Linked DNA regions of Homo sapiens: all the other regions are linked to region 1. The links come from fine-mapping of genetic effects on gene expression. A gene starts in region 1. Each other region holds a variant in brackets. All regions are shown on one strand. Distances are between the middles of the regions. Region 1 holds the start of COPG2 (coat protein complex I subunit gamma 2). Region 2 holds the start of COPG2IT1 (COPG2 imprinted transcript 1). Region 3 overlaps COPG2 (coat protein complex I subunit gamma 2). Region 4 overlaps COPG2 (coat protein complex I subunit gamma 2). Region 5 overlaps COPG2 (coat protein complex I subunit gamma 2).

Evidence for each region. PIP is the estimated chance that this variant, and not a neighbour inherited with it, causes the effect.
Region 2: its variant is fine-mapped to the expression of COPG2 in subcutaneous fat (TwinsUK, PIP 0.95).
Region 3: its variant is fine-mapped to the expression of COPG2 in whole blood (INTERVAL, PIP 0.98).
Region 4: its variant is fine-mapped to the expression of COPG2 in macrophages (Alasoo 2018, PIP 0.95).
Region 5: its variant is fine-mapped to the expression of COPG2 in monocytes (CEDAR, PIP 0.95). The same link has a PIP of 0.9 or more in CD4 T cells.

What each region holds. Positions count from the first base shown.
Region 1 is chr7:130,666,457-130,671,562 of GRCh38, reverse strand. COPG2 (coat protein complex I subunit gamma 2) reads left to right here and starts at 2,815. Exons shown (of 24, transcript NM_012133.6): 1 at 2,815-2,931; 2 at 4,029-4,081; 3 at 4,634-4,714. The coding sequence starts at 2,895. It overlaps TSGA13 (testis specific 13), which reads left to right. Exons shown (of 8, transcript NM_052933.4): 8 at 2,380-2,920. The coding sequence ends at 2,549. RefSeq lists silencers at 2,443-2,552, 2,643-3,232 and an enhancer at 3,503-3,612.
Region 2 is chr7:130,542,355-130,547,460 of GRCh38, reverse strand. All of the region lies in intron 20 of COPG2 (coat protein complex I subunit gamma 2), which reads left to right. It overlaps COPG2IT1 (COPG2 imprinted transcript 1), which reads right to left and starts at 4,008. Exons shown (of 1, transcript NR_024086.2): 1 at 561-4,008. The variant A/GAAATGAAATA (reference allele first, on the strand shown) is at 2,291.
Region 3 is chr7:130,593,573-130,598,678 of GRCh38, reverse strand. All of the region lies in intron 9 of COPG2 (coat protein complex I subunit gamma 2), which reads left to right. LOC124901746 (a long non-coding RNA gene) reads right to left here. Exons shown (of 2, transcript XR_007060524.1): 1 at 2,570-5,106; 2 at 1,703-1,825. Among named protein-coding and RNA genes, the nearest start is that of COPG2IT1, 53 kb to the right of the region's middle. The variant G/A (reference allele first, on the strand shown) is at 2,809.
Region 4 is chr7:130,601,569-130,606,674 of GRCh38, reverse strand. The region is part of intron 9 of COPG2 (coat protein complex I subunit gamma 2); the gene reads left to right. It also overlaps the pseudogene RNA5SP246. Among named protein-coding and RNA genes, the nearest start is that of COPG2IT1, 61 kb to the right of the region's middle. RefSeq lists a silencer at 4,477-4,677. The variant G/TG (reference allele first, on the strand shown) is at 2,954.
Region 5 is chr7:130,509,256-130,514,361 of GRCh38, reverse strand. All of the region lies in intron 20 of COPG2 (coat protein complex I subunit gamma 2), which reads left to right. Among named protein-coding and RNA genes, the nearest start is that of MIR335, 16 kb to the right of the region's middle. The variant A/TA (reference allele first, on the strand shown) is at 2,310.

The sequences.
Region 1 (5,106 bases):
GTGGTAGTCCTGGAGACTATTTTTCCCTATAGCATGGAAGTTAACAACAAATAGAGGCTCAAAAGGTGCAAAGCTCTGGACCCTGTTTAAATCCTCAAATTTCAAGAAAGCTCTAGCAGTGTTTACTAAGCTATATCACCCAGCACTTTAATAGTTTTTGCCATATTGATGTATTATTTGCTGTTAATTTACTTAGCATTTTTTAAAAGGATTTTTAAAAAATCTTGTCCTAATTAATACTATATCATTGATATCATGGTTTTGATGTACAAATTATATGCTTTTCTGAAACACTTATATCAAATTTATAATAATGAAATTTTAAAATGTTTATCTATGTACCACCTAGAACCACCCAGTGGTATGCATATTATACTTTGAAGAAAAAACTGCTCTAAAAGGGCCAAAGGATAAGTCTGTGTGTCTTAGAGGTACAAAAGTCTCTGGGATTGGGGTAGGGAATGGGGTAGAAGGGGCTTGGAATAAGGTTGTATGGCAGAGGGTACAATGAGAATCCTCCTCACATATTATCATTTATTTAACAGTATTTCAAGGGTTCCTACTAAGTGTCTGACACTTACCAAGCACCAACAATATCACTTTCAATATGTGAAAGAGATGAAACAGATCATAAAAGGCCTTGACAGGCTGGGCGTGTCCGTAATCCTAGCAGTTTGGGAGGCTGGGGCAGGAGGATTGCTGGAGGCCAGGGGCTTGACACTAGCCTGGGCAACATAGTGAGATCCTGTCTCTACAAAAAATAATTTAAAAAAATTTAACAGGGTGTGGCGGCATGCACCTGTAGTCTGAGCTACTTGGGGGGCTTGAGGAAGGAGGATTGCTTGAACCTAGGAGTTCAAGGTTGCAGTTAGCTGTGATTATGCCATTGCACTCCAGCCTGGGTAACAGAGTGAGACCCTGTCTGAAAAACAAACAAACAACAATAACAAGAAATCGAAAATACCACAATGCCTTAAATATTATTTAAATAAAGGTTTGGGTTTTATCCAGTAGGCAGTTTGGACCCAATGAAGAATTTCAGGGCACTGAGTACACATTTGTGTATTAGATATATATAATTGGTGGGTCCTCAGACTTCACCAGCTCATGGTTTTAAGATAAGGTCCATTTCTCCTACTGGGTTTCTCTCCTCAAACAATTCCTGAGACTCCCTAAGGTATCCTTGCCTGTCCCACAAAGCCATTGCAGTGATTGCTCAACCCGTCTGCCAGCCATCCTCAGTCCAAATAGTCCTGATACCGAAGGCCTGGGGTCATATTATACCATCCCTTAACTGGCTTCTTCAGGCTTCTCTGCTCCTGCTATACCTATCTGCCACCACATCCCATCCCATTTCCACCTACTGATGCTCTTAACTCCGTAAATACTGCACAGCTAAAAACAACCTGTGGTATTAAACAAAACTTCATAGATATACAGAAAAGCTGAAGAACAGCAGAGAATGATTGATCTTGCTTTACAAGGGGCTAGTCTTAGGGTCAGCCCCAAATCTGAACTCAGGTCCTTCTACTTCTCAGCAGGTCTCCGGGGCATTACCCACCTTGAGAACCTCTGGGCCTATTATCTACACTGTCTCTGCCTAGGTTCCCAATACCCTTGGGCCAAGGAAGAGGAAGAGGATGTTTCCTTCCCCAAAGCCTGTTTATTTTCACCCCCAGAATAAATGAGTGCAGACTTCTATTTCCTTCAAAGAAAACTCCACCTACAAAGTATGACTTGACCTTTACAAGCCATATAAAGCAAACATAGTAGTTAATAGTACATTTAGTCAAGTCGGAGTTAAATCTTAAATGATACCATATGTAGGATATCAACAGTTCATCTTAAATCTGTATTTCAGGGAAAGAATTTCTCTAGGATGTAGAATGTAATCTAGGTTAGAATTTCTCTAATTTTGCAGGGGCACGATCCTGTTGAGTATAGACCCAATTTACATTTCTAAACAAGTTATGCCAGTGAAGCCAAAGGCAGACAAAGTTTCTTAGCTACACTCTTAGACAAGAGAACAGAAAGCCAGCATACACTCTGAGAAAAAGAGGAACATGAGTTAGGAATGAATGCACGTTAATTTAGTGAGTTTCTTAAGTGTCAATATGGTTTCAGATGGAATCATTGAAAGAAATAGGCTTGAACAAGGAAGACTCTAAACTGGCAATGAATTTTCCACTGGGTTTTGATGAAATGAAGGAATCCAAAAATTATAAAATAGGTTGGGAATGGTATTACACGGTCCAAAATCTACCCTCTAAAGACCAGCCTCTGGTCCCTCCAAGTGCGTCTCCTTTACATCTCACATTAAGTATCCTTCGAGTACTTCTGAAAAGCCACATTCACCAGGGTGCCTGTGCTTTGTCGTAGCTTCCAAGAAGTCAGCGAGTGAAAGGCCAATTTCCAAAGTGATTCGGGAACCACTGACACTCGCATCGCTCTTGGAAGACATGCCCACCAGAACCGCGCCCGGGGAGAGCGCCTTCCGCAACGGGAGGGCCCCGCAGTGGATTATCAAAAAGGCCACGGTCATCGGGTGAACACAGACCCCTCAGTCCTCCCGCCTCGCTCTCTTGAGACTGAGGGGTCCGCAGAAGTCGCCACCCAAATAAAACCACATTCCTGCTGCTGCGGGCGTGGGCTCCCGGGTCGCAAGCCGGGAGGGTCGAGCCGAAGTCTCCGGCGGGCCGCAAGAGGAGAAGGGGGCGTGGCTGCGTCCCGGGGGCCGAGGGCGGCCGGGGAGGGCGGGCCTTGGCCCCGAGTGAAGGCGCGGCGGCCCAACCGGCGTGAGAGCGCGGGGCCGGCCTTCCTGCAGCCTCTTCCGCTCGCCGGCTGCGGCGCCTGGGACGGTTGCGGTGGGTCTGGGCGCTGGGAAGTCGTCCAAGATGATTAAAAAATTCGACAAGAAGGACGAGGAGTCTGGTACGCGCGGGGCTTCCGAGGCCCACCCTCAGCCGCGGGACGCCCCTTCCCCCGCCCGCCGCCACCTGCTTTCAGGCCGGCGGGGCTGGGGGCGTGGGCGCCGCCGTGCCAGGGGGCCGGAGCTGGAGCCGGCCCCTCCCCTCCCCTCGCGGCTGCCCGGGGCCTGCCCGTAGCCCCTCCCCCGGGCGCCGGAGCCTCCCTTCGGGCCGCGCGCTCCCGCCCCGGCGCCCGCGCGCGCCCCGTTCCCGCCCCTCTTGCGGCGCAGCCCCTCCGAGCCGCCTCCTCCCCTGCGCGCGGGCCTCCGGCGGGGGCCGAGGGCGTGCGCGCGTCTCCGCGTCCAGGGGTGCTGGTAGGGTCGGACCCCTAGTGGGAGCACCCTGTTCCCGGGGCTGGGGTCGACGGCACAGGGTGTGTGTGGAGGAACGTTCAGGTGCCTGGTACCTTATCGTTTTCCTGGGGTCACCGGCTCTGTCCAGGTCCCCGGGGGCAAGACTGTCCCGTGGGACACAGCTCGTTGAATGCTCAGGTGTCCAGAAGTGACCTGCGTCTTGATGCCCGTCTTTGGTCCAGAGCAAATGGGGAAGATGCCAAGCATCCTCAAAAAGAAAAAAATTCTCAGTGTTTGGTAGCATCTCCCACAGTGTGAGAGGGGGTTGGGTTAGTCAACCTCCATGGCCTCTTGCACCTTTACGCCTGCATGATTCTCTGGGAAACTTCGTTTCTGCCTCTCCTTAAGTGTTAGAAACACATAAAATACTGCTTACCTAAGGAAATCAAAAGCACCCTACTACAATCTCATTAATCTTCGTTGTTGTGGAAATGACACATTTTTAACATTCATGGAAAAAGAGGGCAGGGAAAGAAGACACTCATTTTGGAGAGGGTTGCTGCGAAAGAGAAGTCTCAGCTCTTCGAGTATGGCAGTGACAGAGCCGGGATCAAAATGATTTCATTCAGTTCGTATGCGTATTAGCCATGATTATCACTGTGCCATCCAAGTGTTCACTTCCCAAGCATTCAGTACCCTTCTCTGGAAAGTATATAAGTTTGTGTAGAACAGCTGTTCAGGACATTTTTTTGTTTTGTTTTATAAATAGGTAGTGGCTCCAATCCTTTCCAGCATCTGGAGAAGAGTGCTGTTTTACAGGAGGTATGACTGGGAAGTATCTTGTGCCCTTTCTTTTCTATTCTGTTTTAGAGTGGTGGGCAGAGAATCCCTGGGCTGCTGTGATCACGACATGCAAAACAAGAAACGTAACAGAGTTTAGGGAATATAGATTTGAGGGAAAAGAAAGAGGGGTTACTTGTCACAGGAGAATTTGGAGCTTATAGAAATGCAAAGACATGAAGACTGTCACAGGTTGGGAATTTTAAATGTAAGAACAGGTGTTTAGTGCAAGGTTATTGAAATCAGTTATCTGTATTAATCTCATTGTATTAGTATGATATAGATAAGTATTGTGATCCTTATTTAACTGGTATAGCCCATAAAGTTGAAGTAGTCAACCTAAGGGAATGAGAAAGTATAGGATGGAAAATCAAGGCCACGTGTAATAATTTATCAGATACCTTAGTAAATTGAGAACTATAGACAATGTTCTTTGGATACCGTGATTAAAAATAGTCTGTATTAAAGTTGATTTGCTATAATCTGTGATAGAAAAGGTAGAAAAGTAGCAATGTTTTTTATGTTTTTTCATAGGCTCGTATATTCAATGAAACTCCAATCAATCCAAGAAGATGTTTGCATATTCTTACAAAGATTCTTTACTTACTGAACCAGGTATATTATTTTTATTTTCCTCAGATAAGTGTGTCCTGGAATAGAAATACTGAAGATTCAGTGAAATACTTTCTGGAAAGTATATTTATTTATTTTAAATTCACTTAATTTTAACATATACAACGTTTGGTTAACAAAATAATATGTAAAACTTGAGTACGAGGACTATGACATATACAGGTTGAGTATACCTTCTTTGCAATGCTCGGAACCAGAAGTGTTTTGGATTTCAGATTTTTTTGGATTTTGGAATATTTGCAGAATACATACTCACTGACTATTGCTAATCTGAGTATCTGAAATCCAGAATGCTCTGATGAGTGTCTCCACTGAGTGTTATATTGGCACTCAAAAAATTTCTGATTTTGGAGCATTTCAGATTTTGGATTTTG
Region 2 (5,106 bases), 120 kb after region 1:
AAAATTTGCTGAACACTTAATCTTAAAAGAGAAACTGAGTGTGTATAGCAGTAGCACAAAAAGGAACTCAAGCTTTCTGTTGGAATAATGTGACCACTTGTGAGAGTTCATATACCTGGTCTCCTGTGAAGAATCTTGACCCTCTTCTCCTCAAAGTTTCTATCTAGTTAGATAGAACTTGGTTATGTAGTAGATTGTTGGCATTTTAAAATACATCATTTTTGAAGGTCCTGTAGCATAAGGCTGGTGTCTGAGAGCATGTCTCAGCCTAGTGAGTAGCTTAGCCAACCATGTGTGTCCACATTAAGAAGGGCTTTTAATTCCCTCCTTGACCCATATGCAGTCTTTGCAGGGTGGAGAAATAGCCCCTAAAAGACAGCCAACTAGTGCCAATAGTAGTATTTACTTATTTGGAGACTTGGGAAGGTGAATGTCAAGTATTTATTCTACTTGATTCCCCCCATCATCATTTTCCTCCTTGATTTCTTCTCTTCTCATGTTCAGTGCACAATATTCGTAACTGTTACCCAGTTTTCACAGAAATAAGCACACACATCACATTTATGTTTTGAACAACTTTTACTGCTCGTAAGTACAGGAGAAACAGAAGTTAAAAAATTAACAAATACTGGGAAAGTTACAGAGTTACAATAAATCATAAAAGCACTAGTAAATAGTTATCCCTGGTCATCATTCAGTTACATTTGGGGCTTAACCTGCTTTCTTTTAGCCCCTCTCCAAACTCCCTTCTTAGATGTTGGTTCCTGGGAGCCCCTGTCCAGTCTTATCTGTGTTGGGTGATAGACTAGGCTACTCAGACTCTAGCACGAGGTAGATTCACGTTGGCACCACTGCTGTGTCTGAATCCCAGATTGTTCCCTCTGGCCCTGGGTGGAACTCTACTTCTATTCTTTAGCCACCCTGGATCCATAACCCCCTGAGTAGGAAGGCACTTTCCTATCTGGCCTCCAATATTTCTCCTTTGAGCTCGAGGCTATCTGGCTTTAACCTTTAATTACCTCCTTTATCCCTTTGTGAGGTTTCTCTAGTTCCATTTCCTTGTAACTTCGCTTTCTCTCCTGGTCTGTTTTTCTCTCCAGTTAGATTTGTCTGAAATATGTCCACTAGCCAGTAATTAAGCTGGCTGTACTCTTAAGTAAAGCTAGTTTTATTTACCTTTTTCTAAACTAGTATTTGGGCCCAATCTTAATGTAGTCCTGTGGTTTCTACCATTGTCTGGAGAGACTCTGCACTTCATCAGTTCTTTTCCAGTAGCCATCCCTCCATGTTTCAAAATTCCTCCTGCTATTCTACCTCTCACCAATGTCCTGTTTTTTAAGGGATGCTATTACTTTGCCACTTAATTTCAGAGGGAAGTGAAATGCTGAACCCATTGAAGAATCAATCCCTTGCCAATTGAGAATACTAGCTCTTCCCACTTCCCCAGGTTCATTTTGCTAACTAATAACTCAGGTGGCTCACACCCCAGAAAGTATTCTTAACGGAATCTAAGAAGTATAATTTTATAATACCAAAATACACAAAACAACAATATAGAAATTACATATAGTATAGGAAAAAACCAACAACAACAACAAAACATTTCCACCAAGAGAGGAAAAAGAGGAGAGGTTTTCTTGCCCCTCTTCACTAAGGAGTTTTAAAACATAGATCTTACAAATTAGCCCAGAGATTTCAACATTTGGTCTGCTGGCTATGGACTCTTTTGCTTGATGGTTTGTTTGATTTTTGTTTATAAAAGTTTGGCATTTAGGGAATTGTTTAAAGTTTTGTTAGTAGTAAGTTTATATTTGACCCATCATATACCTACTTAAAAAACAAACTCCTTTCTATTTAGTTTTTTGTCAGAATTCTCAAATTTTTAATCCATGGCCAATCTAAAGTCTATGCTGTGCAATGGAAGAAGTGAAATACCAGGGCATAGATGGTAATAGGTATCTTTCACCCATTCCTTCCTTTTTGCATTTTCCCATCACAGATATTCCAAATTTTACCTGTCACCTCAAGGTCTTAAACATCAATATGTCTCATTTCAGAAAAATAATATTTTTCCTTATAATCGCAGTGAAAAAACAGAAATTCTTGGTTTGATTTCCTTCAACTTGAAAACAGTATAGCATAATAGAAGGGAATATGGGTTTGATAGACAGATGAGGATTTGAATGCTGGCCCTGCTACATACTGACTGTGTAATCGTGGACAAATTATTTGATCTCTTAGGACTGTTATAGGATGAAATGAAATGAAATGAAATGAAATGAAATGAAAT[A/GAAATGAAATA]ATAGGTAAGTTGCTTCACATGGTGCCAGACACATAGAACCTTTTGGTGTTTAATTCTAGAATTATCCACTTTCTTCCTTTATCCTCTCTAAAATCAAGTCTTCCAGAGTTCAAAAGACACATACCCTCTAATCTCTTCCAGAAAGTTGTTCCATCAATTATTCCTTTCTTTGATCTATCTTTAATCTTTCCTACTCCCCTTTACTTTATAAATGTATAAAAATCTACCCTATCTGAAAAAATTTGCTTTAACCCAACATCAATATATTACCATAACACCTTCTCGCAAAGGTTGGGCAATTTCTTGAAAGACTATGGACATCCTAAGTCTCTATGTAACTAGTCCTACTTATTATCTTTCGTCCTCCCAGAATTTGTCCTTTACCTAAAAAGTTTTAGAAAAGCCTTTAAGGCAACATTCCTTCTAAGCATTCATTCTCTTTCAGCAGCTCTGTTTCCCCTGAATATTTATTGCACCCGTAACAATATATATTATATACACAACATTCTACCAATTATTCCCCATGTTTGACCTTTTTAATGCAACTACCAACTTAACTTTTTATTCCACTACCTATTCAAAACCATTCTAATCTTTATATTGCTTTTATTTATCAGGTTTTATTGCATCATATTTCTTGTTATCTGGAACCATTTCAACAAATATTAATAACTTATTTTAAAACAGTCTTTAATAGAAAATATTCATACTAAGATCAGCTGTAACAGTACATGTATGTGAGTTTATTTTCTCTGATTTTCATTGGAAATATTGCCTGCCATATAATGATTCATAATTATTTTAATTTCTTGACTTTCTGCCTACACTTCCTTAAAGTGCCATCTTAAGCTACTGTAGTTGCCCTTCCATTATTTTTTGTTCAGTATTAACCATATTAACTTGGCATTCTGTACTAAAAACACAACTTCAGTTAAGTAAGATTTGCCTCAGAGTTTTTTACTTTAACTCACCTCCACTCACCCACTGGGATCCATATTATTAGGCTCAGTGAAGCTTTGCATTCTTCTAAGCCAAGCATTTAATCTGAATTTTAACTCAAATACTAAAAAAAGCAGTATTGGTAGAACATTTGATTCAGCCACCCTTTCCCCTTCCTTTATCACTAGAATTTGCTTCAGTCTGGCTTTAAAATCAATATTCCTGCAGTCTAACCCATTGAAAGATCTGCCAGGATTCTCAGTCTGAGATTTCCTTATTTACCCACTCATTTGTCACATACCCAGTCTGCCATTCCTCAAACTCACTGAAATTTCCCTCATTTCCTTTCAAGCCATCTTTCTAACCTATTTGATACCCCTTTTCTACCCCATCATCTTCAATGTCTCTAATTTTTGTTGCTGACTTGACTTAAATGATCCTATCTCTACAGAATGCAACTTAATCATGGTGTACCCACTCATTTCTGCCTTTTGCCTTAGGGGAAAAACAAAACAAAACCCTGCTCTATTGGTAACGCCCAGTCTTTGTTCATCTGTCCTTGAAATTGATTCACAATGTGAATATGTATAAGCTTCCTCATGACCCACCTCCAGTGTTCAAAACACTTCCTTCCTGTTCTCTTGGTGTCCAACATACTTACCTGCATCCTTAGCTAGTAGAACTGACATTCTGAGGATTGCTGATGAAGCTCATCCTTCAGACTCCGCTTCATAAACCTATCTCTATATGGGACCGTTTATTCTCCTGACTCTAAGCATTCATCAAGTGTTTCCCTCAAGGAGCTTTAAGGAAGCCACCAAATTCCCTAATGACAAGTTCTTTCTATATAGTTTTCCTCTTTGCCATTATTCCATACTGTGGATCAAGGGGCAACAATACCCACCCTACCAACTCTGACATTCCTAAATCCCAAAGTGGTTTAAACTGTATACTGTCCCCTTAATTTCAATCTTGTTAAACAGAGTAATACTTCCTTCTCATTTTGGCTCTGCTAATTTTGTTGGAGACCACATTAAACACATAGTAACCTATGTCCAACCCCCACACTTGCAAATTTTACATTGTTAATTGTTTGCTTTCAAAATCCTGACCTTCAGTGATTGCCAACACTGCCTTCCATATCAGTTGGGGTTGCTTTACCATCACCCTCTATAAGGTTTCTTCTTTTTCTGTTTTCCTATTCAATGAAGTAGTTACCATGACAGGTAAAGTGTTGTTACCCCACTCGCTTGTCGTCTAGGATTTAACTTCTATTCCCTAAAATGCTCCTACACTCAGCCATGATACCGAACATACCACTGACTTGCCCCTGAGATTTGCCAGTGCCCCCACTTTGGGAACTCTGCATTCCACCTTCCCCTATTCCATGTCAGCCCTTTTACTGATGCTAAGCCCTGCACAAATTCATAAGGTTATCTCCCCTCCTACCTGCCTCCTGTCCCTTCTTTTACCATAAACTTCCGTCATCAAATTTACATCCCAATAACTGCCTTAGAATGGCTGCCAGACTCTCTCATTCCATGTGGTATGCCAGTGTAAATTTGCACAGTCTACACACAGTGTTGCCTCCCACTGTCATCTTCCAGAAACTCCTTTTCATCTTCAACATCCAGTCCTGCATGCCCTGCCACCTCCAAGTCAATCCACAGACTCAGGAATCTGTCCTGAACTCTGACCCCTTCCTGCCCTGCCCCCCACTGATGACACCACTGCCAGCTTCCATGTCCTCAACCTGCTGTACTGAGTCCATCTGCTGTCTCAGTTCACCCCTAACCGTCCTGTATTCTCAGTTCTGCCTCTAAGGAACAGTGGTTTCCTCTCTCTGTTGTGTCCTCTGGCCTTCCATCGTCTCGCC
Region 3 (5,106 bases), 73 kb after region 1:
AGTTGATGCTTTGGCCCAGTTAGGGCCTCATGCAGTGGCTTAGTAATGAGCTGAAATCCTGGGATCCAAATCGTGCCATACCTAGGAAAGTTATGAGTTGCTTCTTCATTTGTGAAGGTCTCGTCTTTAAGATAGCCTCCTATTGTTTGACAGACAAGATCCGGTTTCCTGGGCTTAGGATGTATCCCAGATATTTTATTTCCATTTTAGAAATCTGGGCCTTAGATGGAGAGACCTGATAATCTTCTTTCTCCCAGGAAGTTTAGGACTTGAATGGTATTCTTATCTGAGTTCTCTTTAGTGGAACTATATACAAGGATGTCATCCACATCTTGGAGTACGGCTTCCCTTTCTACCTCTAGCTCCCTTAATTCTCATGCCGAGGCATTGCTGAACAAGTAAGGGCTATCCCTAAAGCCCTGAGGCAGTACTGTGCAGGTGTACTGCTGGGTAATAATAGTTTCAGGATTAGTCCACTCAAAAGCAAACAAATATTGAGAGTCAGTGTGCAGAGGGATACAAAAAAAAAAGCATCCTTGAGATCTTATACCATGAACCAGCCCTTGCTCTAATGTCCCAGCTTCCTACACTAGAAGCGGCAACCATTTCCTACAGGTTTGCTGTTAGGGCTGTTTGGTCCTTGGGCGAAGAATCCCCCTGGGTGTCATTTGGGCCTGCTGTCTGTCCCATTGTTTGCCATGCTGAGTCCTTTCAGCCTCTTCAGCCCTATCCCTATTATTGAATAACCTAAAAGCTACATGAAACATGTGAGTAATAGGCATTTGGGATCCCAAAGCCAATTTCTGCACTTTCCTCCTCATGTTCCTCCTGATGTCAGATGCTGATAGACTAATAAAGTATGTCCTTAGAAAAATTTGGCCAGCATCAATATTGGGTTCAATGTTAGCATATATTTTTTAGGGCCTTCACAAGGCTCCCCTGGAACACAGCAGGGTTTTCATCTTTTCTTTGAGTTATTTCCCTTATTTTATTATAGCTCACAGGCTTAGTGGTACCTTTTTTTCATTCCTTTCACTAAACAAGTCATCATGTGATTTTTTTTTTTCTTAGATAAGCCTGGCCCTGTTGATAATTCCAATTAGGGCCACTGTTAGGCACAGACATGGCCTTTACAGTATATTGTTCGGGGTCCCAAGCCAACAAGGTGTCAGCATAAGCCTGGGCCTGTGCCCAAATACACTGCTTTTCCTCAGGGGTACAACACATGGACAAGATAATATGAATATGTCCCCAGGTTAACTCAGATGAGAGTGAGAGAGCCCAGAACCCCTCCATAACTTTAGTTAGGTCCTCTGAAAATTGGCCCAACCTCTGTCTGCAGTAGGCTAGATCAGACATCGAAAAAGATACACCCAGATAGTCCCAGCACCCCCACTGGCCACCTCCCTAAGTGGGCATAACTTAGAATGGTCAAGAATGTAGGAAATGCACTGTGGGCAACCCTAGCAGGGCTCTGCTCCTTCTGTAGAGAAGGGTGTGAAGGTTGGTAAGGAGATGGACTAGCAGGAGTCTGGGGGTACATTTCCCAAAAGGGGGATCGTGCAGGGTATCTGGTGTCCCATTTGGTTCCCCTAAAGGGCTGTGAGCCTAACAAAGGCAGCAGTTCCCGCGAGGGTCAAGGTTCTGATAAAGAGCCGTGAAGGCTTGTATTAATACATATGCTACTTCAGTCCACTTCTTCTGATGTTTACAAAAAAGATTTAATTCCAAGATGGTATTGCATTTTACGGTCCTAGACTCTGGCCATTGCACCCCATTTTCTAAAAGAGAGTTACCCATAGCCTTGACTTGTCCTCGGCACGACCTGAAAGAGAAAAGAACAGTATAGTTTCCTCTTCGGAGGGACTAGTTCCAGCATTTACAAAATGCCAGGTGAATGAGCTGGTGGTTCTAATGTGGCTGTGGATGCTCTGGGCTAGGTGGCCATAAAGATGATACTGGTGGACTGCAGTGGAGTCCCCAGATGCCAATGGGACCTCAGCCCCAGCCAGTGTCCAGGCTCTTGACACCAGCTCCATGGTCAGGCCGGGGAGACAGTTGTCCATGTTCCCTTGGCTGGCTGCCTTGGTGTCCAGGTGTCCCTGGAGCCCTAGTGTTGCCCAGGCGTCCATGGCCCCTGGGGCTTTGCTTTCAAGGTTGAGTAGGATGAGTGTGGACCTAGTTTGAAAGCAGCAAGCCTGCCAAAATCCATCTGAATATTTATTACCAAGTAAAACTTCGTAGTAGAGATAATTCAGCATGGCCAAATAATAGCCACCTTGAAGGGCCCCCTTAAAACAATAGGCCTAGATTTGGCATTCCAGCGGACCTATTTTGCTGTGTCCAGAGTTCACTAAACTTTTGTGTGAAGTATGAGGAAGAAGCATGAGAAGAGAAAACCACAAAAGCAGGGTTTAAAGAGAGATGGGAAAGGGAAAACAGTTCCCAACCAAGGTCAGTGTCTTAGCGCAGCTGGTCCCTTGGGAGAACAGAAGACTTCCCAGGAATAAGTCATAATGCTCCTTGGCAGCTGTCCAGCCACTGGGACATGGGATTTTACCCTACTCACCCTCATTAGCCTCTTGCCCAGGAGGCCCATGGCACCTCAGAGCTCAGGTGTAGGTCAAAGCCTTCCCACCTCCATTTGTCACTGTCAGGGCGAACTGCGTTTTCCAGCTGGAGGAAGCAGAGGCACTACGGCTGAGGGGAGTCAGGCTGTAGGAACAAGGAAGAAAGTAGCAGTAACTCCAGAGAACGAGAAGACTCCAATTAAGGCCCCAATGGGACTTACCAACTGCTGGTGGTTCT[G/A]ATGTGGCTGATGATGCTCTGGGCTGGATGGCCATAAAGATGATACTGGTAGGCTGGAGGGGGGGGGTCCCCAAATGCCGATGGGACCTCAGCGCCAGCCGGTGTCCAGACTCTTGACACCATCATGAGAAGGAATTCAAGGATGAGTCAGAAAATAGTGAAAGTACAGAGATTTTATTTCAAAGCAAAAAGTGCACACTCAAGGGAGTGTGGGGGTACTCAAGAGAGTTGCATCTTGTTTTGTTCATTTAGTATTTTCTTCTAAGATTTCACCCTTGTTTTTGCTTATAGCTTTTGTTCACTTAAATTCTATTTTATATTTCCTTGATAATTTCCCAGCTTATAACTTTTGAGATGTAACTCATAAACCATAAAACTCACCTTTTAAAAGTATATAGTTAATTTTTAGTATATTCACAAAACTATGTAACCACCACCACTAATTCCAGACCATTTGCATCACCTCACAAAGAAAGCACCCAACCCATTAACAGTCACTCTGCATTCTCCTTTTCCCTCTCGCCCTGGAAAATACAAATCCATTTTTTTGTCTCTGGATTTGCCTGTTCTGGACATCTCATATAAATGGAATCACACAATATGTGGCCTTTTGTTTCTGGCTTCTTTCATTTAGTATAATGTTTTCAAGATTCGTTTATATTGTAGAAGTTATCAGTACTTCTCTTTATGGCTGAATAATATTACATTGTATAAATATACCGTATTTTATTTATCCATTCATCTGTTGATGGACATTTGGCTCGTATTCATTTTTTGGCTATTAATGAATAATGCTGCTATAAATGGTCATGTGTAATTTTTTATGTGACAATACATTTCAGTTCTTTGGGGTACATACCTAGGATCAGAACTGCTAGGTCATAATATAACTCTGTGTCTAGCTTTTTGAGGAACTGCCAAACTGTTTTCCAAGGGGGCTGCACCATTTTCCATTTTATCAGTAGTGTTTGAGAGCCCAATTTCTCCACATCCTCACCAACACTTGTCATTGTCTGTCTTTTTTATTATACCCACCCCAGTAGGTGTAAAGAGGTTGTGTGAATCTAGTTGTGGTTTTGATTTGCATTACCCTAGTGATCAGTGATGTTGAACATCTTTTCATGTGTTTATTGCCAATCTCCATATCTTCTTTGGAGAGATGCCTATTTAAAATCTTTGCCCATTTAAAAAATTAGGTTGTCTTTTATTGTTGAATTGTATTAGTTCTTTGTATATGTTGGATACTAAACCCTTATCAGATACATAATTTATAAATGTTTCCTCCAATTCTTTGGGTCATCTCTTCACTTTCTTGATATAGTGTTCTTTCAAACACAGAAGTTTTACATTTTGATAAAGTCTAATTTTTCTGTGTTTTGTTTGCTTGTGCTTTTGGTATTACCCCTAAGAAACCATTGCCTAATTCAAGGTCACAAAGATTTACACCTGTTTTCTTCAAAGAGTTTATTATAGTTTTACATTTTACATTTGGGTCTTTGATCCATTTTGAGATCATTTTTGTGTATGCTGTGGGATAGAGATTCAACTTAATTCTTTGCATGTGGCTATCCAGTTGTCTCAGCACCGTTTCATGAAAAACGATTTGTTCTCCATTGAATTGTCTTGGTGTGCTTGTCAAAGAATTGTGATTTTAATTTCTAATTTCCTAATTACTAATGAGTTTGACAACTTTTTTCTGTGTTTACTATCCATTTGGATATCCTTTCTATTGAAATATTTGTTTGAGTTTTACCCAGTTTTTAACTTGGTTTTCTGCTTTGTTCCCATTGATTTTCTAGGAGTTCTTTATGTCTTCTAAATGTGAGTCCGATGTTGATTGTATGTGTTGCAAGTAGCTTTTCCCATACTCTAGCTTGTCTCTTCCCTTTCTTGGTGTCTTTTGATGAACAGAGCTCCGTAAGTGTAAGGTAGTCACATTTATCAGTCTTTTACTTTAGAAATAATGTGTTTGGTGTCTTGCATAAGAAACATTTTCTTACCCCAAATTCACAAATATATCCTCTGTACTATTTTCCATAAGCATTATAGCTTCAACTTTCATATTTTAGGTTTGTAATCTACCTGGAATTGTTTCATTTTTTTTTTCTTTTTTGGATATAGTATAAGGTAGCAATTTAATTTCTTTCTTCTCCATATGAAAACCCAATAATCTCAGCACCATTAGTTGAAATATGTGTCTATACCCACTACTGTGCAATATTAGCTTTGTTATAAATCAGGTGTCTTTATGTGGATTGGTCTATTTCTGGACTCATATTCACCACTGCTTTTTATTTC
Region 4 (5,106 bases), 65 kb after region 1:
ATTTGTCATTTCACATTTTACTGTAAACAGCAAGATAAAACTGGGTCACATCTTCATTTTTGGAATTTTCCTCAAGTAAATATCCAACTTCATCGTTTACAAGTTCTGCTTCACAAATAACTACAGGGCACAAATTCACTAAGCTCTCTGCCAATACATAATAACAAGGATCTACCTTACTCAAGTTTACATTAATGTGTTTTTTACTTCCTTCTGAGCCCTCACTACAGCATCTTTTAAGTCCAAATTTCTGTAGGCAGTTCATAAGCCCTGACCAGCAGTGTCCTTAAGAACCAGATCGATTGATCTTTCTTTCTCCTTCCTTCCTTCCTTCTTCCTTCCTTCTTTCTCTTTCTTTTCTCTTTCTTTCTTTTCTTTCTCTCTCTCTTTCTTTTTCTTTCTCTTTCTCTTTCTTTCTCTCTCTCTCTCTCTCTTTCTTTTTTTTATTTATTTTAAAGTCTTGCTCTGCTGCCCAGGCTGGAGTACAGTGGCACAGTCTCAGCTCACTACAACCTCCGCTTCCTGGGTTCAAGCCATTCATATGCCTCAGCCTCTTGAGTAGCTGGAACTATAGGCATCCCAGCACTTTGGGAAGCTGAGGTGGGTGGATCATTTAAGATCAGATTTCTTATAAGTCTCTTCAAAACTAGGCTTCCTCCATCATGCTCCTCAAAATTCTTCCAAGCTTCCACCCAGTGCCTAATTCCAGTCAGTTCTACAATTTGAGGTATTTGTCGCAGTAACACTTCACTTACAGGTACCAAAATCTGTTAGTTTTTTTTATTGTTGCCATAACAAATTACCATTAAATGTAATGGCTTACAACAAGATCCATTTATTATCTCAGATCTGTAGATTAGAAGTCTGACACAGGCCTCATGGGGCTAAAGTGAAGATGTTGGTGGAGTGCTGTTGCTTACTGGAGGCTTTGAGGAAGAATCCACTTCCAATCTCATTTAAGTCGTTGGCCAAATTCATTTCCTTGAGACTGTAGGTTGTAGGTCTCTGTTTCCTTGCTGGCTTTCAGCTGGAGGTTAGTCTGTGCCTCTAGAGGTTGCCTGTATTCCTTCTCATGCTTTCAATGAGCAACTAAAGGCCTCTCTTTGAGTCCCTTGCATGTTGATTCATACGTGTCAGAGCCAGCAATAGTGTGTTGAGCTGCACTTTGAATCTCTCTGATTTGCCTTTCTGCCACATTTCTTCTGCCTCCTCTTTCAGCACATCTGCTTTAAAGTGCTCATGTGATTAGATTGCACCTACCTGGGTAATTTAGGTGACAATCTTAATTATATCAGCACAGTTCCTTTGCCATGTTGTAACGTAACATATTCATCAGTTCTAGGAATGAAGACATAGACATCTTTGGGGAGCCATTCTGCCCCAGCAAGTGCAATAACTGAATCAGATAATTTGCTGAATGGACTTAACAGCAGATTAGAGATGGCTGATGAGAGAGTCAAAGAGAGTTAGTGAATTTGAAGATAGAGCAGGAGAAAGTAGCTAGTTTGAAGAACAGAGAGAAAACAGATTAAAGAAAATAAAGAGCCTCGAAGAACTGTGGGATAAGATCAAGTGGCCTAACACATATGTAATTGGAATCTGGAAGCAAAGGTGATAGAATGGAGCAAAAAAGATATATGAAGAAATAATGACCAAATATTTCCCAGTATGGGTTTATTCTAGTAGTATAAGGTTGATCTAACAGTAAAACATAGCATAATATACCTCATTTTAAAAATACAGAAGAGTCTTAATGCCTTAATGGGTGCAGAAAAAAGCGGTTGATAAAATTTAATGGCAATTCATGATTGAAATCTCTGCCACCAGGACTGGAAGGGAACATGATTATTCTGACAACAGTACAAAAAAACTCCACTAAACTTTATACTTATTGGTGGACTATTAAAAGCTTTCCCCTAGAGATTGTGAATGAGACAGACAAAAATGCCTGCTATTTTTATTTTTTAAATAGTATTTTGCTAGAAGGCTTACTTTGTGCAATAAGTGAAGAAAATAAAATACCTAAAAATTTGAAAGGAGGACGTAACACTATATTTGGAGATAATATGGCTATATATATAGGAAATGCAAAATAAACTGTACATTATCTATTAGAGCTCATATGTAAATTTACCAGTGTTGCTGGTCAATATCCGAAGTCATTTTATTTCTTATTCCAGCAACCCATCAAAAAGATAAAATTTTGTAAAAATGGTACAATTTATAATTATATTGAAATCAAATCCTTGGGAATGTATCTACTAAAATTTGTGTATATCTCTACACAGAAAATTACACAATATTAAAGTATGACCTAAGTAAATGAGGCATATAACATTTATGGAATATTCAATATTGTAAAGATACATCTTCTTAAATTGACCTATGGATTCCACAAACCCCTAATTACAATCCCAATTGGCTTCTTATAAATAACCAAACAGAAATGCCTACATTTGTGTGTTAAAAGACATACAGTTGATCCTTGAACAACATGGGTTTGAACTGCATGGGTCCACTTACACATGGATTTTCTTCCACCTCTGCCACCCTTGAGACATCAAGACCTCCTCTTCCACCCCAGCCTACTCAATGTAAGATGATGAGGATGAAGACCTTTATGATGATCCACTTTCACTTAATGAATAGTTATATCTTCTCTTCCTTATGATTTTCTTAATATTTTCTTTTCTCTAGCTTACTTTATTGTAAGAATACAATATATATTACATATAACATAAAACGTGTTAATGAACTATTTTTGTTATCAACAAGATGATTAATAGTAGGTTATTAGTGATATTTTGGGGGAGTCAAAAGTTACATGTGAATTTGCAGCTACATGGGGGTTGGCACTGTTAACCCCATGTTGTTCGAGGATCAACTGTACAAGATGCCTATAGTACTGTTATTCATAATTGCCGCAAATTTTTTTTTTTTTTTTTTTTTTTTT[G/TG]AGACTGAGTTTTGCTCCTGTTGCCCAGGCCAGAGTGTAATGGTGCCATCTTGGCTCACTGCAACCTCTGCCTCCCGGGTTCAATTGATTCTCCTGCCTCAGCCTCCCCAGTAGCTGAGATTGCAGGCACGCACCACCACACCCTGCTAATTTTTTGTATTTTTAGTAGAGACGGAGTGTGACCATGTTCGCCAGGCTGGTCTTGAACTTCTGACCTCAGGTGATCCACCTGCCTCGGCCTCCCAAAGTGCTGGGATTACAGGCATGAGCCACCATGCCCAAATTGCCACAAAATGGAAGCAGTCCAAATGTCTATCAGTGCCAGAATCAAAAAATAAATTGTGGTATATTCATATAGTCAGATAGTATACAATAATGGAAATGAACAATTACTGTTAAATACAATCACATAAATACATCTCACCAAGAAGTCATACACAAATGAATACATTTTATATAGTTCCATTTATGTTTATTTTAGACTTAACATAGGCACAACTAACCTGTGGTATTGAAAGTTAGTATAGTGATTATCTCTGAGGTAGGAGCACATTAATTTTGTAGTAATTCACGTATGATTTTCATACTGTCATGTGTAACACCAGATTAAAGGGATAGTAAATATTTATTTTTCCATATAATTTTTGCAGGTCAGGGGTTTGGGAATGTCTTAGCTGGATGGTTCTTATTTGGGGTAGAAAAGTTGATAATTCTGAATTGATGTTTACAAATAATTTTTTTTTAATTAGAAGCTCTAAAATTCCAGAGGATGACAACATGAGAAATAATGGTGTAGAAGGTGGTATTAGTTTATGGCCATACCACCTTAAACAAGCCAGGTCTCATCTGATCTTGGAAGCTAAGCAAGGTTGGGCCTGGTTAGTACTTGGATGCGAGACAATCTGGTAATACCGGATGCTGTAGGCTTTAAAAAAAAAGGAAAGTGGTTGGCCGGGTGTGGTGGCTCATGCCTGTAGTCCCAGCACTTTGGGAGGCCGAGGCAGGAGGATCACTTGAGGTCAGGAGTTCGAGACCAGCCTGGCCAATATGGTGAAACCCCCGTCTCTACTAAAAATACAAAAATTAGCTGGGTGTGATGGTGTGTGCCTGTAATCCCAGCTATTCAGGAGGCTGAGCAGGAGAATTGCTTGAACCCAGGAGGCAGAGGTTGCAGTGACCTGAGACTGTGCCACTATACTCCAACCTGGGCAACAGAGTGAGACTTTGTCTCAAAAAAAGTAAAAAAAGGAAGGTGGTATTAGATGGAAGTAAAAGTATGCTGTGTATGTGTGTTGTCATCTTGTATGGGAGGAAAATATGGTAATAATATAAAACTTTATTGTAATATTATAGATATAGCTAATATAATATTTAATTATATAAAGAATGTAAATTGAATGTAAAGCTTTCAAAATGTCGAAGAAAATGGAGTGAGGAAAAGTTGATTGAAAATTGATAAGGAAAAAATTGATTGAGGTAAAGCCTTCAAATAGACAACAGGAAAGAAATCGGTTAGAAGTAAGTGTAACTGTATGTGTTATCTCTTGCTATGTGGTATATTGGACCAAAAATTCACAGCTTATAAGTAATACTTACTATTCCCTAGTTGCTATGGTCAGGGATCTGAGAGAATCTGTCCAGTTTGATTCAAGGTCCCTCCCTCGTATGAGTTTATAATCAAGTCGTTGGCCTAGCCTGCAGTCATCTGGGCCTGGAGGATCCACGTAATTTTACTTATATAGTTGTTGACAAGCCTCAGTTTCTCCCTGGCTGTTGGCCAGATGCTTTAGTTTCTCACTTTGAGAGCCTTCCCTCCTTCCTTCCTTCCTTCCTTCTTTGCTTCCTTCCTTCCTTCTTTGCTTCCTTCCTTCCTTCCCTCCTTCCTTCCTTCCTTTTTTTATTATACTTTAAGTTCTGGGGTACATGTGCAGAATGTGTAGAACGTGCAGTTTTGTTGCATAGGTATACATGTGCCATGGTGGTTTGCTGCACCCATCAACCTGTCATCTACATTAGGTATTTCTCCTAACGCTATCCCTCCCCTGGCTTCCCACCCGCGACAGGCCCCGGTGTGTGATGTTCCTCTCCTTGTGTCCATGGGTTCTCATTGTTCAACTCCCACTTATGAGTGAGAACATGTGCGGTATTTGGTT
Region 5 (5,106 bases), 160 kb after region 1:
CCTGGAAACAAAGAAGTTTCACCCTTGAGATGGGTTTCCAACATGATCTCCAGCCACTCCTCTTCCAATATTAGTCATCCATTCTACAAACTACTCAAAGATCTATCCTGGTGTCTTTAAGTGCTGCCCTATTAGGGCTCATCTTAATCCATCTCCTTCTAATCCTTCTCATTAAACTTCTCACAAAAGCTTCGCATTACTTTTCAAGCACTTGTTCTTCTTCCATTGTATCTACTGCTTTTCAAAGTCTGCAATTAAGAGCCAACATTTGACTGAATAAACCCACATTTTTTAAGGGTTTACAAGATTTCCCATTCTGGGAAACACTTTCCTCATTTTACCTGTCCATGCCACTCCACCTACGCTTACCTACTCTTTGTATAGTTCTCCCTTTACACAGTTTCCAGTCTCTCCTTATTTAATCTTACACTTATGGGGCCGTATCCCTCCAGTCAATACCTGCCAATCTTCAAATGACTCCGTCTCTTCTGCAGGCTCTTCCACTATTTTCCCCAGTTGACCCTAGTAGAACAACTGTTAGTCACTTGTTTTTTCAGCTATCATCTTGTGTATCATTCTCATGAATTTAGTCTTTTCTTCCTCGTCACCTCCACACTACTCTGAAAACACTTGCACTTTCAGTTCATTCCAGACCTTCATAGGGTTCCTGCCACTGCCTATGGCAAGAATCCATTCCATTTAAACTCCTTGACCTTTCACTCTATTGGTCACACTTGTTGCTTCAAACATCATTCAAGCAAAGATTCCCAGATGGCACTTCCTCATGACACCAGTTCTTATTTATCTACTTACTCTTTGTATTCTCTTTCCTTCTTTGGTTGTAACCCAGCTTAACTCACATCTCTCTACTGCATATGCAGCTCTGCCATCTTCTGGTGTTCCTCATTCTGGCCCTCTTTAATGCCCTTCCCTACCCATACATATATATGTATATGTGTATATATATATATACACACACACACACATATATATATATATATACACACACACACACACACATATATATATATATATATATATATATATATATATTTTTTTTTTTTTTTTTTTAGACAGAATTATTTCACTCTTGTCACCCAGGCTGGAGTGCAGTGTGGCCTGATCTCGGCTCACTGCATCCTCCACCTCCCGGGCTCAAGTGATTCTACTGCCTCAGCCTCCCAAGTAGCTGGGATCACAGGCACCTGCCACCACGCCCAGCTACTTTTTGCATTTTTAGTAGAGATGGGGTTTCACCATGTTGGCGAGGCTGGTATCAAACTCCTGACCTCAAATGATCCACCTGTCTCAGTCCCCTGAAGTGCTGGGATTACAGGCATGAGCCACCGTGCCCAGCCCCTACCCACACTTTATATTCCACACTCCAGCCTAAATCCTACATCTTTTCATCTTTTAGCTTCCAGCCTCCATCTTCTCTTTCTCTTCCCCTGTGATATTTTCATTCATGTTTCCCTAGGAAATGTCTGTCACTTTTAGCCAATCCTCACATAGCAGAGTAACTTCTAGGCAACTTCAGTGGAACACTGTGCAATAGTCTACGATATCTTAACTGTCAGTCATCCTTTCACTTGCCATCTCTCTCTTTTTTCTTTTTTTGAGACGGAAACTCACTCTGTCACCCAGGTTAGAGTGCAGTGGCGTGATTTTGGCTCACTGAAACCTCCAGGATTACAGGCATGTGCCACTACGCCCAGCTAATTTTTGTATTTTTACAAAAATTTTTAGTAGAGACGGGGTTTCACCATCTTGGCCAGGCTGGTCTCAAACTCCTGACCTCAAGTGATCTGCCAGCCTCAGCCTCCCAAAATGCTGGAATTACAAGTGTGAGCCACTGCACCCGGCCTTACCATCTCTACAGAAATAGATATAGACTTTTTTACTTCACTCTTCATAATCACCCATTCCCCATCTAGTAGCAATAATCCATTCTCTGGACAAACTACATGTTCACACTCTCTTAATAAATCAAGCCTAATATTTCTAAAGTTGCCATCTATAGCTTTTTTGTTGTTTTTTGTTTTTTTTTTTTAGATGGAGTTTTGCTCTTGTTGCCCAGGCTGGAGTGCAATGGGGCTTGGCTCATGTTAAATTGTCAGAGTTGTATATTAACAAGGAGAGTTGTGTATTAACAAGGAGAGTTAACAAGGCTCACCAACTCGGCTTACCACAACCTCTGCCTCCTGGGTTCAAGTGATTCTCCTACCTCAGCCTCCCAAGTAGCTGGGATTACAAGCATGGGCCACCACGCCCGGCTAATTTTGTATTTTTTTTTTTTTTTTTTTTTTTTT[A/TA]GAAGACACAGTGTTTCACCATGTTGGCCAGGCTAGTCTTGAACTCCCAACCTCAGGTGATCCACCTGCCTCAGCCTCCCAAAGTGCTGGGATTACAGGCGTGAGCCACTGCACCCGGCCCATCTATAGCTTTTTATCAGCATTCATCAGTTTATAACTTTCCTATCAAGCAAGTCCTTTAATTAGCCATTCCCTCAAAAGCTTTAAGAGCTAGTCTGCTGCTGCCTCCTACTGAATTCCTTGCTCCTTAACCCTTTCTGTGTATTTCCCATGCAGCCGACCATTTAGACCTAGACAGGATACCCCATTCTAAATCTTTATTCCACACCTGCTCTGCCAGTAGGCCCTTCCTTATGTAATATTTTCTTTCCTTTGCTTCCAGTCTCTTATTTCATACTCTCTTATGACTTTTGGCCCAGCAATGCTGTCTTACCTTCCTGTTGATGTGTGTCATTCCTTAGTGACCAACTCCTTTTCATCTGAGGACAACTCTAATGTTGCTTTCCAGTACCATTCCTCCTTCCCTTTCTGAATTTGTCCTAGAGAAAAACTCCCTCCCACCATTTGTACAGCATTCCCACAGACTCAACACGATTTTCCAGGTAGGTGTGTATTGCTTATTTTGGCACTCACTGCCCAGCTTTCCTCGATGTCCTACACACTATGCTGCACCCATTGCTTCTCAGTTCAGTCCAGACCTGCATAGACTGCTGCAGTTAGCCTGTACAGATCCATCTCTTTTGCCTTCTTTCTAATCTTTTGCCCTAGTGACATACCCTTTTCTTTAATTATTATTCTAACAAAGCTTTCTGGAAATACCTCATAAGTGTCTCTTACTTTGTCATGGTCTCCCCCAGGTGGTTGAGACCTGGCAGCTCCCTCCCACCTTTCCCACTCTGCCCTTTGCCACACTGCATTTTCTGTACCCTGGCCCAACTCACATGTCCCTCTCCTGTCTTAGCTGCCAGCATCTATCTTTTCTCTAATTCGCTGGGTTCTTTTCATACAAATCTCCTTAGTGGTTGACTCTCATTTTCAGTGAATCCTCACAAGACAAGCTTAATTTCAGAGAACAGTTTTAATGCAGATCTTCAGGGCATTCTTTCCTGATTCTCTTTGGTATTTGCCTTGCTTTGTCTGTGTAACTCTCATATTTACATTATGGCAGTGCATTCAGTATTTTCTTGCCATGGAAAGGCCCCCGCATCTTGCCTCCTCGCCCCATTTCGTCATCCTCTCCAGCAGCTTCGACAGATTACTGCCTAGACTTCCTTAGATCCCTGTAACCTCTCATTGTATCAATCAAACCATTTAAGTAAAAAAATTCCCACTAAGGTTTCAGGAACATTATCTCTACTAACACCATTCCTATTTACTTCCTTAATCTCTTTCTCTGTATCAGGTCCTTATATGTAAGTGTCTTCTGTCTTTACCTCCACATAAAACTCAGCCCCTGTGCCCAGTCTGTGATCTGCCTTCATACCTGATGTTGTCTCTTTGTCCTCCTCATTTGCTGTAGCCTCTCTGCTTAATTGGAACCACACTGGGTTGCTATAATTAATGTCTCTCCTGACTCTTCATTCTAACTTGATCATGACCTTTTCCCCTACCATATTCTGTATCTCTTTCATGGTTTAAAAAAAATGCCTCACCTGACCTGTTCTGGCCTTGTGTTAACTTTCACTTCTTTCCCCTTCTCTCTGAAGAAAATCCTATCCTAATTAAACCACAGTCGTTCTTTTCTCAACCCCTAATGGCATTGAAATTGATTCTGCAGGCTTGATAGGTTCATTCTTTCCTATATGGGAAAACCCACTGCCATCGTCTGTTTTCAGCATATTCTGTTGAATCCATCTGCTCTCTGAATTCAGACCCATTCTTCATAGTCCCCACCAGTGGCTTAAATTAGGCACCTTATCTAGCTTATCTCTAACCTTTCAATCTCTTGACTGCCTCAGCTCACCAGAGCCTGTTGGAAAATCATTTGAAATACAAGGTATTTTACAATTTATTCCTAAACAAATTATCTTCTCAGCACCTAGGCATTAGCATGCCTCTTACTGTTTCCAGCTGCCCGGTGGACTTTCTGGCCTCTTTCCTTTTGCCTGTTTGTACATCTTCCTCTGCTTGCCAAAGCTCTTTTGCATCTTTTGAGAGCCAGTTAAACTATTATATCGTTTCACATTTTTTACAGTTTTCCCAGGCTATTTGTTAATCCCGCACCCTCACATGGCACTCTCTTAAAACTTAAAGGATCTATGGCATTGAGTTGTAAAGTCATAGATAGATCACACACACACACAGCCCACACACTTATTTAACTCCTAGACAGCTCCTAGAGACAGAGATCATGTCTCAGTCATCTTTTTATCCAAGTGTCTGGCACATAAGCTTATACCTTTACGTGTAATGTCAACATGTATTGACAGTCACTACATGTGTGGATGGATGAATGGATGGAATTTAAAGTCAAGACTGAGCAGATGAAAGTCTTATTACCCAATCTGTCGTATATGGTCTTCACATCTGAGCCTGTTCTTTCCTCTCCTTGCCTATCCCCCAAATAACTTTTTAACTCTCCCAATATCTAATATTTTTTGTACCTATAAGCTTTTTCCAGACCATAGACAAGATCCTAAATGCCTTTTCTTCATCCCTGCTTGCTAAATCCCCTCCTTCAAACATTTCAGAAAATACTGTCTTTACTTTTTATAAAGACTTCACTTTCCAAAAATGTACCCCCACCTCCATTTCTTATTACTTAACACCACTTGTGTGAAAACATACAACTGCCCAC